Regions from separate parts of the Homo sapiens genome. Here all the other regions are linked to region 2. Evidence: fine-mapped expression QTL. A gene starts in region 2. Each other region holds a variant in brackets. All regions are shown on one strand. Distances are from middle to middle.

Region 1 (5,231 bases), 330 kb after region 2:
TTTATAGTCGTTCAGTGTTAATATCTGGGCATATTTGAGAAGCAGCCTTAAATTCAGAGGGAGGGCAGTGGGCTGCATAGGACCACTAGGCCCCAGTAGCCCCTCATTTAGCAACCTATTCCCTTCATTACTGATGAGGAAACTGAGACTCAGAGCATCAACTTTGCCTATGATCTTAAACATAAATAAATCATATATAGTGGCAACATAGTTTTAACCAATGCACATGTTTATGAAATGCTTATTAGTCATCCAATACCAATTGAGATGGTTTGGATCTGTGTCCTCTCAAACCTCTTGTTGAAATGTAGTCCCCAATGTGGGAGGTGGTGTCTGGTGGGAGGCGACTGAGTCCCAGCAGATCCTTCATGTCTTGGTGTTTTCCAAGTGATAGTGAATGACCTCTCGTGAGTTCTGGTTGTTTAAAAATGTGTGGCACCCACCTCTCCCTTGTTCCTGCTCCGCCATGTGAAATATTTGCTCCCACTTCACCTTCCACCATGAGTAAAAGGTTCCTGAGGCCTCCCCAGAAGTTGAACAGATGCTGGGGCCATGCTTGTACAGCCTGCAGAACTGCGAGCCAATTAAACCTCTTTTTAAAAATAAATTACCCAGTCTGTCTAAGGCAGTACTGTATAGCAATACAAGAATGGCTTAATACACTAATTGACAGTATTTTATAAAATAACAGAATGCTCCATACACAAGGAAATCAGGACTCACCTAGTTCAGGGGTCAGGTCACATTAAGGGGTAATGTGGGTTTGAAGGCACGGGGAGAACCAGAGAAATCAAGCTATTATGGAAGAGGGTAGCCCTGACCTGTTCTCATGTGAATGTTGAGGCTCAGAAAACAATACCCCCAAAATATGGCCCTTTGACATGCTGAACTGAAAAAGAAGCCTAAAGATCTTTCTGACCTACCCACCCACCGTCCTCTCTCTCAGTCCTGTCTCTCCCAAAGTACAGGATTAAGTTACTCTTATAAGTACTCTCATCTGCCTAAAATCTGGACCCTCCAAAAAAGGAAAGGATGACTTCTGGTCCCTTCCATGAGTTTTCATTAACTGAACTATGTTGCAGGAAGGAAGACTAAAGTCTGTCAACACACCTGGACAGATTTTTATCACAAACCACTGTTCGCTCTGAGGGTCCAACAGACTCTGTCCCAGGCCATTGTATATTCTTCAAGCCCATTGAATTCTCCTAAAGATCATTTACTAACCCATTAACGTCATCTACACTGCTCCATCTCCCTTTCCCCTAAGAAGAAGGGTATATAACAATCTGGACCCCGTTGGGTTATTAGGTAATCAATCTACAATTCTCCCATGTATGCACATTAAAATAAATTTGTATGCCCTTTCTCCTATTCATCTGCTTTTTGTGAATTGGTTTTCAGCAAACCTTTGGAGGACACAGGAGGAATTTTCCTTTGGCCACCACATGAGACTTTGGACCCAGTGTTGCCAGATCTGACTTCTGAAGTAGCTAGAAAGTTGGATGTTTGAATCTTTATGTAACAACATTTTTATATATTGGCAACCAACCACCCCCTCAGCCACACACGCATAAATAACCCCCCACCCCCAGAAAACCTCTCTGCAGGTAAAATAAGATGTATCTATAGTTTCCATCCACTCAGAGTTTTGCTCTATTTGTGCCTCTGTTGTGGTCTAACTGTCTTCTGTTCTGATTAGCAATGGATGCCCAGAAAGAAGTGACTTAACCAAGGGCATATCTGAAGATTCTCTTCAAAAACTTTCTGTGAAAAACTGACAGATCATTCAATTTTAAAAAAGTATGATGGAAAAAAAAACTGGAATCTGATAATCCAACAAGCAATAATTCTGAGGACACCTCTTTGTTTATTGTCTGTAACCTGTATCATCCAAGCTGATAAACATAAAAGGTTAATAAGGTGGACCAGTGCAATAATAAGTTGGTAGATAAGTGTGTGAAAATTAAGTAGAAGTGTCCATTGGTTCAAGATATTCTCAGAGATGAGCTCCTATTTTAAAATTGTGGGCCAGCACTTAAAATAATATGTCAGCAATTTGCCCATAGCCCCAGAGATAAAGTTGAGTGAGATAATAAGTATTATTTGCAATTCCATTGAAAGAAAATTCATGCATATTTGGCAGTAATCTTTGAGGATGAATGAATGGTTAGATGGTTCATTCATTAATGCCATAAATGTTAGTTGATTTCTTACTGTGAAAAAGTCACAGTTCAGGCACTGAGGGTAGAGCATGAGCAAGAAAGGAAATCCCTTCCCTAATGTGACTTATGCCCTAATGAGTTGAATCAACTGCTTAGGCAATACACAACTGGCTAAATAATAGATCAGCTCCTCCATCTCTTTTAGTCATGCCAACAAGAACATAAAAGTTGATGGTGGCCTTAGAAATGGCTGTCTCTCTTGCTCCTAAGCCAATTTTTTTTCTTTTTTTTTCCCAGACGGAGTCTTGCTCTGTTACCCAGGCTGTTGTGCAGTGGTGTGATCTCGGCTCACTGCAACCTCTGCCTCCTGGGTTCAAGCAATTCTCCTGCCTCAGCCTCCCAAGTAGCTGGGATTACAGGTGCGTGCTAACACGCCTGGCTAATTTTTGTAATTTTAGCAGAGATGGGACTTCTCTATGTTGCCCAGGATGGCCTCGAACCCCTGACCTCAGGTGATCCACCTGCCTGGGCCTCCCAAAGTGCTGGGATTACAGGTGCGAGCCACTGTGCTGGGCTGCCTAAGCCAATTTTTTATTGCCATGGCAATGATATGCTTACAGGTTTGGATTATGGCATCGACTCTTTATTCATTTACTTAATTAGCAAATAATCTTCTTGCTTATTCTGTTTGGGGTTTATAGCATTTCTTGAATTTGCAAGTTAACATCCTTCATCAGTTTCTAAAGATCTCAGCTATTTTTTCTGTAAATAGTGATTCTACTCAATTCTCTAGCTCTCACTTAGCTTTCTGAGACTCCAGTTACATATATATTATGCCATTTGACTGACCTAGTTGGGTTTTACTTTTAAAAATAGTTTCTAGTCCTTTCTTCATAGTTCTTCACTTTGGGTTTTTT[A/TA]TTTACCAGTCTTTTATATCACTAGTCTCCTTTCTTTATATGTAACCTGTTTTAAAACCAACTATTGAGTTCCTAATTTTAGAGATATTACTTTTCAGTTTTAGAGTTTTTATTTGATTCTTTTCTATAGATTCTAGTCCTCTGGTGAGATTTGCCACTTTTTCCTCTGTTTTCCTGAACATATTAATCACGATTATTTTAATGTCACTCTCTGCTACCTCCAATATATAGTCATTATGGGCCTGTTTCTATTTCCTGTTTTTTTGTCTTGAGTTTTGTTGATATGATCTTGTCTTTTGTCATGCCTAGTAATTGTTGATTGAATATGAGACATTAGGTAAGAAAAAAATTGTAGAGGTTCAAATAATGATTTCTTCCTCCAAAGAGGTTTTACTTTTCGTTTTCCAGGCAGATAGAGTAGAACTGCTCACCTTAATCCAATCAGGGACTGAGATATATCAAAGCTGGATTACAGTTTTGGTAAGTTCTTTCTAACTCTGTTTTATTTTTAAAAAATTGTAATTTTTAATTTTGTTAATTGATGAGTAAAAATTATATACTTTTACTAGTTAATAACAAAGTAAACAACAAAATAAAACAAAAATTGTACAACATGATGCTTTGATATAAGTATACATTGTGGAAAGGCTAAATCATCATACTTATCATTTTTTTTGGTGAACACATTTAAAATCTACTCTCTTAGCAATTTTCTAGTATGCTTTACATTGTTATTAGCCATAGTCACTCATCGTGCTTACAATAGCTCTCCTGAACTTATTCCTCCTGTTTAAGTGAAATTTTGTATCCCTTGACCAACATTTCTCCAATTCTTCCTCCCCCATAACCCTAGGCCCTTGATAACACCATTCTACTGTATATTTCTACACATTTGACTTTTTAAGGATTCCACATATAAGTGAGATCATGTAGCATTCATCATTCTGTGCCTGACTTATCTTGCTTAGCATAATGTCCTCCAGGTTCATCCATGTTGTTACAAATGACAGGCTTACCTTCTTTTGAAAGGCTGAATAGTATCCCGTTGTATATCTATACCACAATATACCACATTTTCTTTAAACGTTCATTGATGAACACTAAGATTTAAAAATTTTTATTTATTTATTTTTGCTCTATTAAAAAGCTTTTTTTAAACTTTTATTTTAAGTTCAGGGGTATATGTGCAGGATGTGCAGGTTTGTTACATAAGTAAATGTGAACACTAAGGTTGATTTTCTATCTTGGCTACTGTGAATAATGCTGCAGTTAATATGGGAGTGCAGACATCTGTTTGATATACTAATTTCATATCCTTTGGACATACACCCAGAAGGGGAATTGCTGGATCATATGATAGGGTAGTTCTACTTTCGATTTTCAAGAAACTTCCATTTAATTTTCCATAATTGCTCTACTAATTCATATTCCCACTAACAGTATAGAGGTGTTCCCCTTTCTCTGTATCCTCACAAATACTATCCCCTGTCTTTTTTATAATAGCCACTCTAACAGGTGTGAGGTGACATCTTATTGTGGTTTTAATTTGTATTCCCTGGTGATTAGTGACATTGAGCATGTTTTCATATATCTTTTGGCCATTTGTCTTCAGGTCCTTTGCCCATTTCTTTTTTTAAAAATTTAAGTTTGAGACAGTGTCTGGCTCTGTCACCCAGGCTGGAGTGCAGTGACACAATCTCAGCTCACTGCAACCTTCGCCTCCTGAGCCCAAGCAATCTTCCCACCTTAGCTTCCCAAGTAGCTGGGACCACAGGTGCATGCCATGACGCCTAGCAATTTTTTTTGTATTTTTAGTAGTGACAGGGTCTTGCCATGTTGCCCCGGTTGGTCTTGAACTCCTGAGCTCAAGTGATCTGCCTGCCTTGACCTCCAAAAGTGCTGGGATTACAGACATGAGCCACTGCACCCAGTCCCTTTGCCCATTTTTTAATTGAGTTATGTGTTATCTTGCTATTGAGTTGTTTGAGTTCCTTATATATTTTGGATATCAACCTTTTATCAGATGTATGGTTTGCAAATATATTTCTTTCATTTTGTAGGTTGCCTCTTCACTTGGTTGATTGTTTTCTTTGCTGTACATAAGCTTTTTAGTTTGACGCAATCCTATTTGTTTATTTTTGCTTTTGTTGCC
Region 2 (5,216 bases):
TACTAAGGAGGCTGAGGTGGGAGGATCGCTTGGACCCAGGAGTTCAAGACTGGCTTAGGCAACCTATCAAGACCCCCACCTCAATTTTAAAAATTAAAAACAAAAATAAAAGCACAAGAACAAGGTCATAATAAAAACAAACAAAAAAAATTAAAAAAAGAGAACAAGGTCATAAAAATGAGAACTCAAACTTTGGAGATAAAAGTTCAACTTTTTCATTCTAAAAACAAGGAAATTTAAAAGATGTTAAGGATAGTCAGGAAGCCATTAAGTAGGCAAGTGAAGACAGGAACACAGGTCCACAGTATGATGTCAAACATCATTTCCCTAAAGCAAAAATGATAACGGTTGTAGCAAAAACTGAGGGTGAATGAGGAAAAAGAAATTAATGCTACCTAGATTAGACCAAAGACAATTGTAATTTTAGAAGCACTTACTTAGATGTAGATTCCCAAAAGGAAAGAAAACAGATTAATCTCTGATCTCTGCTTTCAAGAGCACAAACTCAGATTCAAGTGCCCCTAGGCAACTTTAGGCAAATTAAATTAATTTCTTCACCTGCAAAGTGATCATTAAGAAATAATCTCATGGAACCATGGAGAGTTAAGTGATAAAGCGTGTAAGGTAATTAAGAAAGTACCTGAGAAGCTTTAAGTAACAATAAAGAGTATTATAATCAGTATTATTGCTGTTATTTTAGATTCAAAGCTTTTGAGTCAACTGGCAAAACTTTTAAAAACCACCAAAAGTGGCTGGACACAGTGGCTCACTCCTGTAATCCCAACACTTTGGGAGGCTGAGGCAGGCGGATCACCTGAGGTCGGGAGTTCGAGACCAGCCTGACCAACATGGAGAAACCCCTTCTCTACTAAAAATACAAAATTAGCCGGGGCGGTGGCGGATGCCTATAATCCCAGCTATTCAGGAGGCTGAGGCAAGAGAATCGCTTGAACCCGAGAGGCGGAGGTTTCAGTGAGCCGAGCCCGAGCCTGAGCCATTGCACTCTCGCCTGGGCAACAAGAGCAAAACTACACCTCAAAACAAAAAAACAAAACCAAAAAAAAAAACCAAACTACCAAAAGTGAAAAACTGTTTAACAAACAGATACATACCTTTAAAACTTTGTACAGCCGAGGAAGTTTTTTCTCAATTTCTGTAATTACTTCTTTTCCTTCTTCTCCAGTCATACGACTTAAAAAGCAGGAAGAACACAAGTTTAAGTAGTTGACAGGAAAAAAAAAAATACTCTCAAAAATACATGTACAATCTTTTTAAAAATTACTTTCTAACTCCTGCAAATGAATTGACCCAGTAGGTAAGGTCCTTAAGGGTATACAGAATATATAATGCAATATATATCAGAAATGAAAGTAGAAAAACCCTCAGAATAAGTTTTTACATCGAGTACATGCAAGTTGTGACAACCTGACTCCAAAAAGACAGAACAGGGATCCCTATTCCTAGTTACTAACGATTTGCTAAGCCTTTCCAAAGGGTTTTACAAAACTTTAGTACATTTCTATGAAAATTACTTTGAAGCATTTTGCAATTAATAAAAATCAGTGTATTGCTCTGTTAAAAAAACTCTGGGTAGCCACATTTTCCCAACACATCGGAGGTTTACACTGAAGACCCCTCCTCCAACAACTACTTCCAACCGAAACTTTTAAAAATCCCTCGCTTGCAAAACACACGTGCATGCTCCCTCGTTCCAAACACACACCTCAAGCGCAGCAGCAGCAGTACCCGGGAACGTCACCTAGAATACATCTCCCCCGCCCCCCAAGGCGTCCGCGACTCGGGCGTCCTCACATTTGCTAGACTTCTAGAACTCACATTCATTCTACGCGCCCCTCCCAACCACCTTCTTTCTCCCCACTATAGAGCGCCCCACTCTCCGCTACGCCCCGTGGCGGACCTCACCTGGTCAGAGTCAGGTAAGCGTCAGTCTGCCCTCCATGGGAGGCAGAAGGGTCTTCCAAAGTCTCCAACAGCGGCGCGAGGGGGCTCTGACCCCTGGCCGTCATGTCGGCCACCCTGAGGCCCGAACCGGAAGAGGAGAAAATCCAGTGACCGATGGAAACAGCCCCGCGGCGGCCCAGTGTGAGTCCGGCCCTCACACCCGCACGCCCGCCCGGGCCTCACAGCCACGCCGCGTCTGCACCCCAGGCCTCCGAATCACCAAACCCCAGCGCGAACCTCCTCCGGCGCCCGACACCAGACACCTGAGCCCACGCCACATTCGGGCCTGGGCCCGCTCCCGCCACCACTTTCCCGGGCAGCTTTCAACAGAGGGAGGAGATCGGCGGAGGGCGGGAGAAGCCCGGGGAACGAGGCATCTCGCCGCGAGGGGGCGGAGGGTGGGCAGACTGAGGGTTCCCCGCGGCCTACCACTGTCACCCCGATATTTATCCCACCTAGGAAGATCAGGACAGGGTTCTCTCCGCCTCTGCCCCTCAGCACCCAGACGCTGCCAGAGCTCGACTTTCCCAGCTCCGGCTGTTTACTCACGCGTGCGGCGCGCTCCCTCCTAGACCAAGATGGCGGCTGGGCGGGCCCAGGAGTGCGCGGGAGTAGGTTAGGCCTGGCGGGAGAAGTTCGAGCCAATCCAACAGTCAGCGGCACACCGGAGTTATCGATCGCCTCCCTTCCCATCCCTTCCCATCCCTTCCCTGCCCAGCTGCCGCGTCACGCCCCTCTGGTGAGCATCAGGTGGTGGTGTTTTGCCTAAGGCGAGAGACTTGAAATTCAAAATGTGAGTTAATTGCTCAGACTCACTAGACTGAACATAGTGGGCCCTCAGACTAAGTGTTCAAACTCCAAGTCCAGTGCTTGTTGAAGTTTTAGCAACAAATCAGTTAGCAAAAGGAGATAACGTACTGTTGGGTTTAAGACTAAGAGCTGGCCGGGCGCGGTGACTCACACCTTGTAATCCAAGCACTTTGGGAGGCCGAGTCTGAGGTCAGGAGTTCGAGACCAGCCTGGCCAACACATGGTGAAACCCCGTCTCTACTTAAAAAAAACAAAAATACAAAAATTAGTTGGGTGTGGTGGCGCACGCCTGTAGTCCCAGCCACTTGGGAAGCTGAGGCAGGAGAATCGCTTAAACCCGGGAAGCGGAGGTTGCAGTGGGCCGAGATCACGCCACTGCACTCCAGCCTGAGCGACAGAGTAAGAGTAAGACTCCGTCTCTCAAAAAAAAAAAAAAAGAAAGAAAGAAAAAGAAAAGAACTGTATCTCAAGCTGGTCTAGATTCCAGCTGGTCTAGGTTCCATGTGACTTTAGCAAGTTAATTAACCTATGCCTCAATTTCCTCCTCTATAAAATAGGGCTTTTAATAGGTGAAGTGAGAAAAGGTTGGAGAGGCCAATGGTTCTCAGGTCTTAAGCGTACATAACAATGGCCTGGGGATATTCGTTATTAAACTGCAGATTCCTGGGCCCCGCCCATATGCATTGTAATTCAGTAGATTTAGGTAGCTCCCGAGGATGTGCATTCTTCTGTTAGGCCCCTGGGGGGTTGAAGGGTGGGATTTGGCCAGGGCTTCTTCCCTAGAGAAACGTCAGTAAACACAATGACAGTCATTTCTCCTTACTGTGAATATGCTGCTCCTCCCCCGCCTTTTTTTTTTTTTAAGACGGAGCCTCGTTCTTTCGCCCAGGCTGGAGTGCAGTGGTGCGATCTCGGCTCACTGCAACCTCTGCCTCCCGGGTTCAAGCGAGTCTCTGACTCAGCCTCCCGAGCAGCTGGGATTACAGGCGCCCGCCACCACACCTGGCTAATTTTTGTACTTTTAGTAGAGACGGGGTTTCACCATCTTGGCCGTGCTGGTCTCGAACCCCTGACCTCGTGATCCACCCGCCTCGGACACCCAAAGTGCTGGGATTACAGGCGTGAGCCACCGCGCCCGGTCTGCTTCTCCCCTTTTCATATGCCTTCGTGCACTCTCCACAACAGACAGGATTGCATTAACTCTAAATCAGACACATGAAGCCCAGCAGCAATGGAACTCTCCATCATGGGTTCCTGGCCCAGGATTTGAGCCCTCACTCACATGTGCTGCAACTCTCAGCTCTAGAAGTGGGATGTTGCTTTTTGCTCTTCTTTGTGTCATCTGCACTTAGCAAAATGACTGCCAAACGACGCAGTACATACATAGTATGCTTATATATATATTTATTTATTTATATGTATTTATATATATTTATATTTATTTACATATATTTATATATATACACACACACACATACATATATACATATACATATATATATATATATATATATTTTTTTTTTTTTTTTTTTTTTTTTTTTTTTTGAGACGGAGTCTCGCTCTATCACCCAGGCTGGAGTGCACTGACCTGATCTCAGCTCACTGCATCCTCCGCCTCCTGGGTTCAAGCGATTCCCCTGCCTCAGCCTCCCGAGTAGCTGGGATTACAGGCATGCGCCACCACGCCCAGCTAATTTTTTGTATTTTAGTATAGACAGGTTTCACCATGTTGGCCAAGATGGTCTTGATCTCCTGACCTCGTGATCAGCCCGCCTCGGCCTCCCAAAGTGCTGGGATTACAGACTTGAGCCACCACGCCTGCCTCTACCCATTCATTAGAACATAAATTCTGTGAGAACAGGGATTTTGCTTTATTTTTTTCATAATTTCCCATTTGTAATGAAAGGACTACGGTGGTCATGTTGCTTGTATTTCTTTCATATGTATGGTTCTTTGATCTTCCAAAAATGTTATGTTTTAAATTTTATTATTTTTAAAGACAAGGCCTTGCTCTGTCACCTGGGTTGGAGTGCAGTGGTGTGATTGTGACTTACTGCAGCCCTGAACTTCTTGGGCTCAAATGATCCTCCTGCCTCAGCCTTATAAGTAGCTCAAAAATGTTATGTAAGATTTTATCATTGTCATTCCTGTGCCTAAAGTTCTCCAGCCATTCCCATCAGTAACAGGATGGATTTCAAAACTTTTGACATAACATGCAAGCCTATCATGATTGGGCCACTGCTTGTCCTTCATCTCCAGATTACTCCCACTTCATCAGATTCTGAACAGTCTGCTAAGATCTCCAGCTTCTCTGTGTCTTTGAAGACTTTTATTCAGAGCATGTATTTAGAATATTAATTACCTTCTTCAAGAGTAATAAATAAGAGTCAGGTGGCTCACACCTATAATCCCAACACTTTGCAAGGCTGAGGCAAGTGGATCAC
Region 3 (5,231 bases), 130 kb after region 2:
TATCTGTCTGTCTATTTATCTATCTATCTATCTATCTATCTATCTATCTATCTATCTATCTATCTCAATCATCAATCAGAAACCACAGCTGCAGGATTACATTGAAATCTAGTTCCAATCAACAGTATTTATTCTTGTTTTCTCCATTTCCATATTTATAATTATCTTCTCTGACGGTGAAAAACTTGGCTCCTATTATCCTCCATATATTTACTTACTTGATCAATTCTGTGTATGTACTTTTGGCCACTGGAGCCCTTTCAGTTGGGTCCCCATGTCCCTTTCACATACTCCCATCATATTGTATGTGTTTGTGCATGTGTTTTAGTGCTTTTTACTTTTCTGGCACTACAAGATATTCCAGGCTTATTTTGTATATTTTATACCCCAGACCTAGAATCAGCCATTGCTCCAATGAGCCCTGGTTTCTTTTATTGAAGAATATTATTAGAAACCAAGATCTGGGTGTTATGCGACTCTCCTCTTTTTTTGACACTCCTGTGTTCATTAAACTAAGACATAGCTAAGTTTTTGCTAGTCTTCTATTTTATTTTTAAGGAGGAATAGATGTCTTTTATTTCTTTTTCAAGAATATTGAGAATTTAGCCACTTGAAATCTTGGAAAATTATATGGCAGACTGTTTATTAATGTGTATCTAAAAACATAGAATCATGATATCCTTTGTCCCATTTTTGATCTGAGAGTTTTTCATCTCAGTAAATTCATATGTAGGCAAGAGTTCTTAAATTTTGTGTACCATGGATTCCTTTGCCAGCTTGGCAAATCCTATGGGCCTTTCTCCAAAAAAAAAACATTTAGTCAATGCCTGTGGGGACAGGCATGGTGGCTTATCCCAGCACTTTGGGAGTCCAAGGGGGGCGGATTGTTTGAGCCCAGGAGTTCGAGACAGTCTAGGCAACTTGGCGAAAACACATCTCTACAAAAAATACAAAAATTAGCTGGGCATGGTGGCACATACCTGTAGTCCCAACTACTTGGGGGGCTGAGGTGGGAGGATCACTTGAGTCAGGGATGTTGAGGCTGCAGTGAGCCGTGTTCATGCCCCACTGCACTCCAGCCTGGGCAACAAAGTGAGACCCTATCTAAAAAAAAAATTAAATGCATAAAATAAAATACATAGAATTACAAAGTAAATCAATTGTATTGAAATATGACTGGGATTATAGGCACCTGGCACCACGCCCAGCTAATTTTTTTTGTATTTTTAGTAGAGACGGGGTTTCACCATGTTGGCCAGGCTGGTCTCAAACTCTTAACCTTGTGATCCACCCGCCTTGGCCTCCCAAAGTGCTGGGATTACAGACATGAGCCACCGCGCCCGGCCAGAAATCAATTGTATTGAAATATGGTTATCAGAATATTTAAAAAGCAAATGTTTGATATAGTGATATATATCAATGTATTACAATATATTACAAGACCTAGTGGTGAGGTTAGTAACTAATGTAGAAGCAATGTTAAACACAAACTATTTTAGCATATCTGCAACAATATTCTATGAAACTATCTGTGCTTTCTATTGGTGACTATCACAGGTGCTGTGAATACTACTGTAGTTTGTTACCATATTCATAATTGAAGAGAATGCTAAGCTTCAATTAGAGGTTATTAGAAATAAACATATAATTTCTTCCCAATCCATGTTTATGGACCCAGCAGGAGAGTTAGTGAAAGCTTCAGGTAAGAACACCTGCGTAGAGAAAGCATATGTTGGAGGCCTCTTGACTTTGTTTACATTTGGGGAGAACAATAGGGAGAATTAAATATTTTAATCAAAAACTTTGAAAAACGTTGGAAAACCAAAATAGTATTCATTTAAAATGGAGCATGATATTATGGTTGGAATGTGAACTACAAAGGAACATTAATGTTCATTACTTTCT[A/G]TATATTATTTTGTTGAAAAGCAAAGGATTTTTAGAATCTTTTTATATATTATAGGTGTGAAAGTTATTTGAAATATTGGCCAGGTGCTGTGGCTCACGCCTGTAATCCCAGCACTTTGGGAGGCCGAGGGGGGTGCATCACTTGACAAGAGTTCAAGACCAGCCTGACCGACATGGTGAAACCCCATCTCTACTAAAAATACAAAAATTAGCCGGGCATGGTGGCAGGTACCTGTAATCCCAACTACTTGGGAGGCTTGAGACAGGGGAATCACTTGAACCTGGGAGGCAGAGGTTGCAGTGAGCCAAGATCGCACCATTGCCCTCCAGCCTGGGCGACAGAGAGAGACTCTGTCTCAAAAAAAGAAAAAAAAAAGGAGTTATTAAAATACAGACTTTGTTTGGATATAAGCCATATGATAATAAAGCCTTTGATGATGGGAAAAAAAGATATAGCAAAGAAGAGATGTTTCTTCCATAAAAGGGTAAAAGTTCTTATTTCTTTGTTCTTAAATTTGTGTATATATGCTATGCTTATAATATTTATTTTTTATAATATTAGGGGATCATGGAAGCTGATAAAGATGACACACAACAAATTCTTAAGGAGCATTCGCCAGATGAATTTATAAAAGATGAACAAAATAAGGTAAAAAGGAAATTACTGGGTATTATTAAAAATTATTTTATATCTATTAGTTTTGCAGTAAGGCATGTTTTGTATGTCTTTGTCCAACATTACCTTGAATTTGGGAGGCCGTTAGGCTTTAAAAAAATTTTTAACTTCCATTATGTTATTTAAGCCTTACAAGAAGTGTCATATTTTTATTCTTTCTCTTATAAGGCTTACAACACTAGCTGCTTTCTCACTCACACCCTCATTTCTTGGATTTGCATCAACAAGTTAAGAGCATAGTCAGCAATTATCTCATTAGACCCCAAGAGGGAACGGAGGCCCAGGTAGCTTAAACCACTTCCCCAAGGTCATATGTCTGGCTCATTAAGGTAACTGTGTACTATGCGATACTATGGGAATCACAGATAATTAAGAACAAAAACAACAACAACACCAACAACAAACTGCCCCAGAATATGTCCGCTATTACAGTGCAATTTAAAAGTCTTATCATGCTCACAAATAGCTAGGAAAGGAGTTGATGCAGCACTGAAGTAATATTCAGAAGATCTGATCTCAATCTTTGCCTTACTATACAACTTTCTGTGACTTCGGTCTAGTGTAAAAGGTGGTTTCCTGATTTATATAATGGAGATAGTACTACTTGGCAATGTTAGAATAGACAGGTGATGATGTAAAATATTCAACAAATGCATTATTCACATAGTCATATTTATTCTGAGACTGTCTAATGTCTTTCTTTGGTCAGGATGAGAGAAATTTATAGTCTTTAGTTCATTCGGAAAAATGAGTTCAGGGGCTATTTACTTTCTTTGGTACCATTTGATATTTTTAAGGGACTAATTGATGAAATTACAAAGAAAAATATTCAACTAAAGAAGGAGATCCAAAAGCTTGAAACGGAGTTACAAGAGGCTACCAAAGAATTCCAGGTACTCTCTTAATTATTTTATATACTACATTTTTGATGGATGCATGGTTTTTGGAAAAAGCATTTTAATTACACAAAATTCATTTTTAAAACCTTATCATCATCCATGGCACCACCATTTGTAATAGTTCAAAATGGAAAACAACCCAATGATTCCTTCATAGTAGAACGAATTAGTGAATTGGGGTATAGTCATATGATAGAAAACTACACAGCAATGAGAATGAACAGATCATAATGACATGCAGCAACACAAATGAGTTTCATAAACACAATGTTAACACAAAAAAGACAGAAGAGGGCATACCATATGCTTCCCTTTAAATTAAGCAAAAGCAGGATGTTTGAAGTTAAAACAGTGGTTATTTTGGAAGCAGGTAAGACCCAGAAGGGAACCCAAGGGGGTTTCTGGGGTGTTGTCATGTCCTGCCTATCATCTGCGTGCCAATCACGTGTGTTAGCTTTGTAAAATTTCATCTTGCTGTACTTAATGATACATGCATTTTTCTATTATTTACGTACACTTTAATAAATTTACAAAAACAAAAAATTAATAAAATTTACCAAAAAAAGATGGTCATTAGCAAATTACTGTTGGATCAAATTCTGGCTTTTCTCACTGAGTTCTTTTATAATTCTTCTCATCCAAGGTGCTTTGGTAATTTAGATGAGTTTCACGGTTCAAAAAATTGGACATATATTAATCCTCACCATTTAAATTCTCTCCTAAATTTTCCTGTATTTTAATTGTACATAATTTTCACCCATTTTTTTTCTTAACAACTCAGATGTTAAAAAATTAAAGCATTGAGGCTGGGCGCGGTGGCTCATGCCTGTAATCCCAGCACTTTGGGAGGCTGAGGCGGGTGGATCATGGGGTCAGGAATTCACGACCAGCCTGGCTAAGATGGTGAAACCCTGTCTCTACTAAAAAAGAAAAATTAGCCAGGCATGGTGGCGGGTGCCTGTATCCCAGCTACTTGGGAGGCTGAGGCAGAGAATTGCTTGAACCTGGGAGGCGGAGGTCGCGATGAGCTGAGATCACACCACTGTGCTCCAGCCTGGGCGACAGAGCGAGGCGCCGCCTAAAAAAAAAAAAATTAAAGCATTGACACTTCTTGTTTCTGAAGTGGGAGATAGGATATTGAATATCAGGAAGTGAGGTTTTCTGTGTTTATGAGATGGGTGACTTTGTGCAGAAGACTCTGTTAAGATTCTGGTTACTTCTCAGACTGGAGCTAGAATCATGCAGTCTTATAACTCAAAGAGCCTTTAGAAACCGGCCAGCCCTAGTCGACCCACTTTGCAGAGGACCAAACCTGTGATCAGAGAGCTTAAGTAAATTTGCTGTCTGTCGCAGTGTGGTCAGAAATAGAATCAAGCTTTCTCACTCTAATTTCAGAAAGCCCTTGCTCCTCAGCATATACTGGGTATTTCTGCATTATTGGGTAACACTCTGCCTTTACTCAGACATTGTAGACTGTTTTGATGTCAGCCTTACCGTAATCAGAAGTTCCACTGGAGTTATGCATAAAGGCAAAGAATAAATGTAAGATTAAATTGAATGACTCACTGAATATTTCTAATCTCTGTGTTATTTTCAGCATGTAAAATAACCATGGGCAATAGAAATGCAAGCATCTATCTCATTTGTGCATTTATGTGTAGTTATATGAATCTGTTAATCCCAATAATTCTAAGCAGCTAAGTATAACCACCTACCTTTATCTTTCAGGTTACAATTTTTTTTTTTGAAAC

The links. PIP is the estimated chance that this variant, and not a neighbour inherited with it, causes the effect. A credible set is the group of variants that fine-mapping cannot tell apart.
Region 1: its variant is the best candidate, but not a certain one, in a credible set for the expression of RIF1 in whole blood (TOPMed, PIP 0.50).
Region 3: its variant is the best candidate, but not a certain one, in a credible set for the expression of RIF1 in whole blood (TOPMed, PIP 0.67).

Annotation. Positions count from the first base shown.
Region 1 is chr2:151,075,910-151,081,140 of GRCh38, reverse strand. No RefSeq gene overlaps it. Among named protein-coding and RNA genes, the nearest start is that of RBM43, 180 kb to the left of the region's middle. The variant A/TA (reference allele first, on the strand shown) is at 3,080.
Region 2 is chr2:151,407,235-151,412,450 of GRCh38, reverse strand. It overlaps RIF1 (replication timing regulatory factor 1), which reads right to left and starts at 2,549. Exons shown (of 36, transcript NM_018151.5): 1 at 2,418-2,549; 2 at 1,924-2,037; 3 at 1,113-1,191. The coding sequence starts at 2,027. RefSeq lists enhancers at 2,477-2,636, 2,241-2,939, 2,940-3,638 and a silencer at 3,342-3,636.
Region 3 is chr2:151,280,191-151,285,421 of GRCh38, reverse strand. It overlaps NMI (N-myc and STAT interactor), which reads left to right. Exons shown (of 8, transcript NM_004688.3): 2 at 2,468-2,554; 3 at 3,379-3,474. The coding sequence starts at 2,474. Among named protein-coding and RNA genes, the nearest start is that of NMI, 6.9 kb to the left of the region's middle. The variant A/G (reference allele first, on the strand shown) is at 1,906.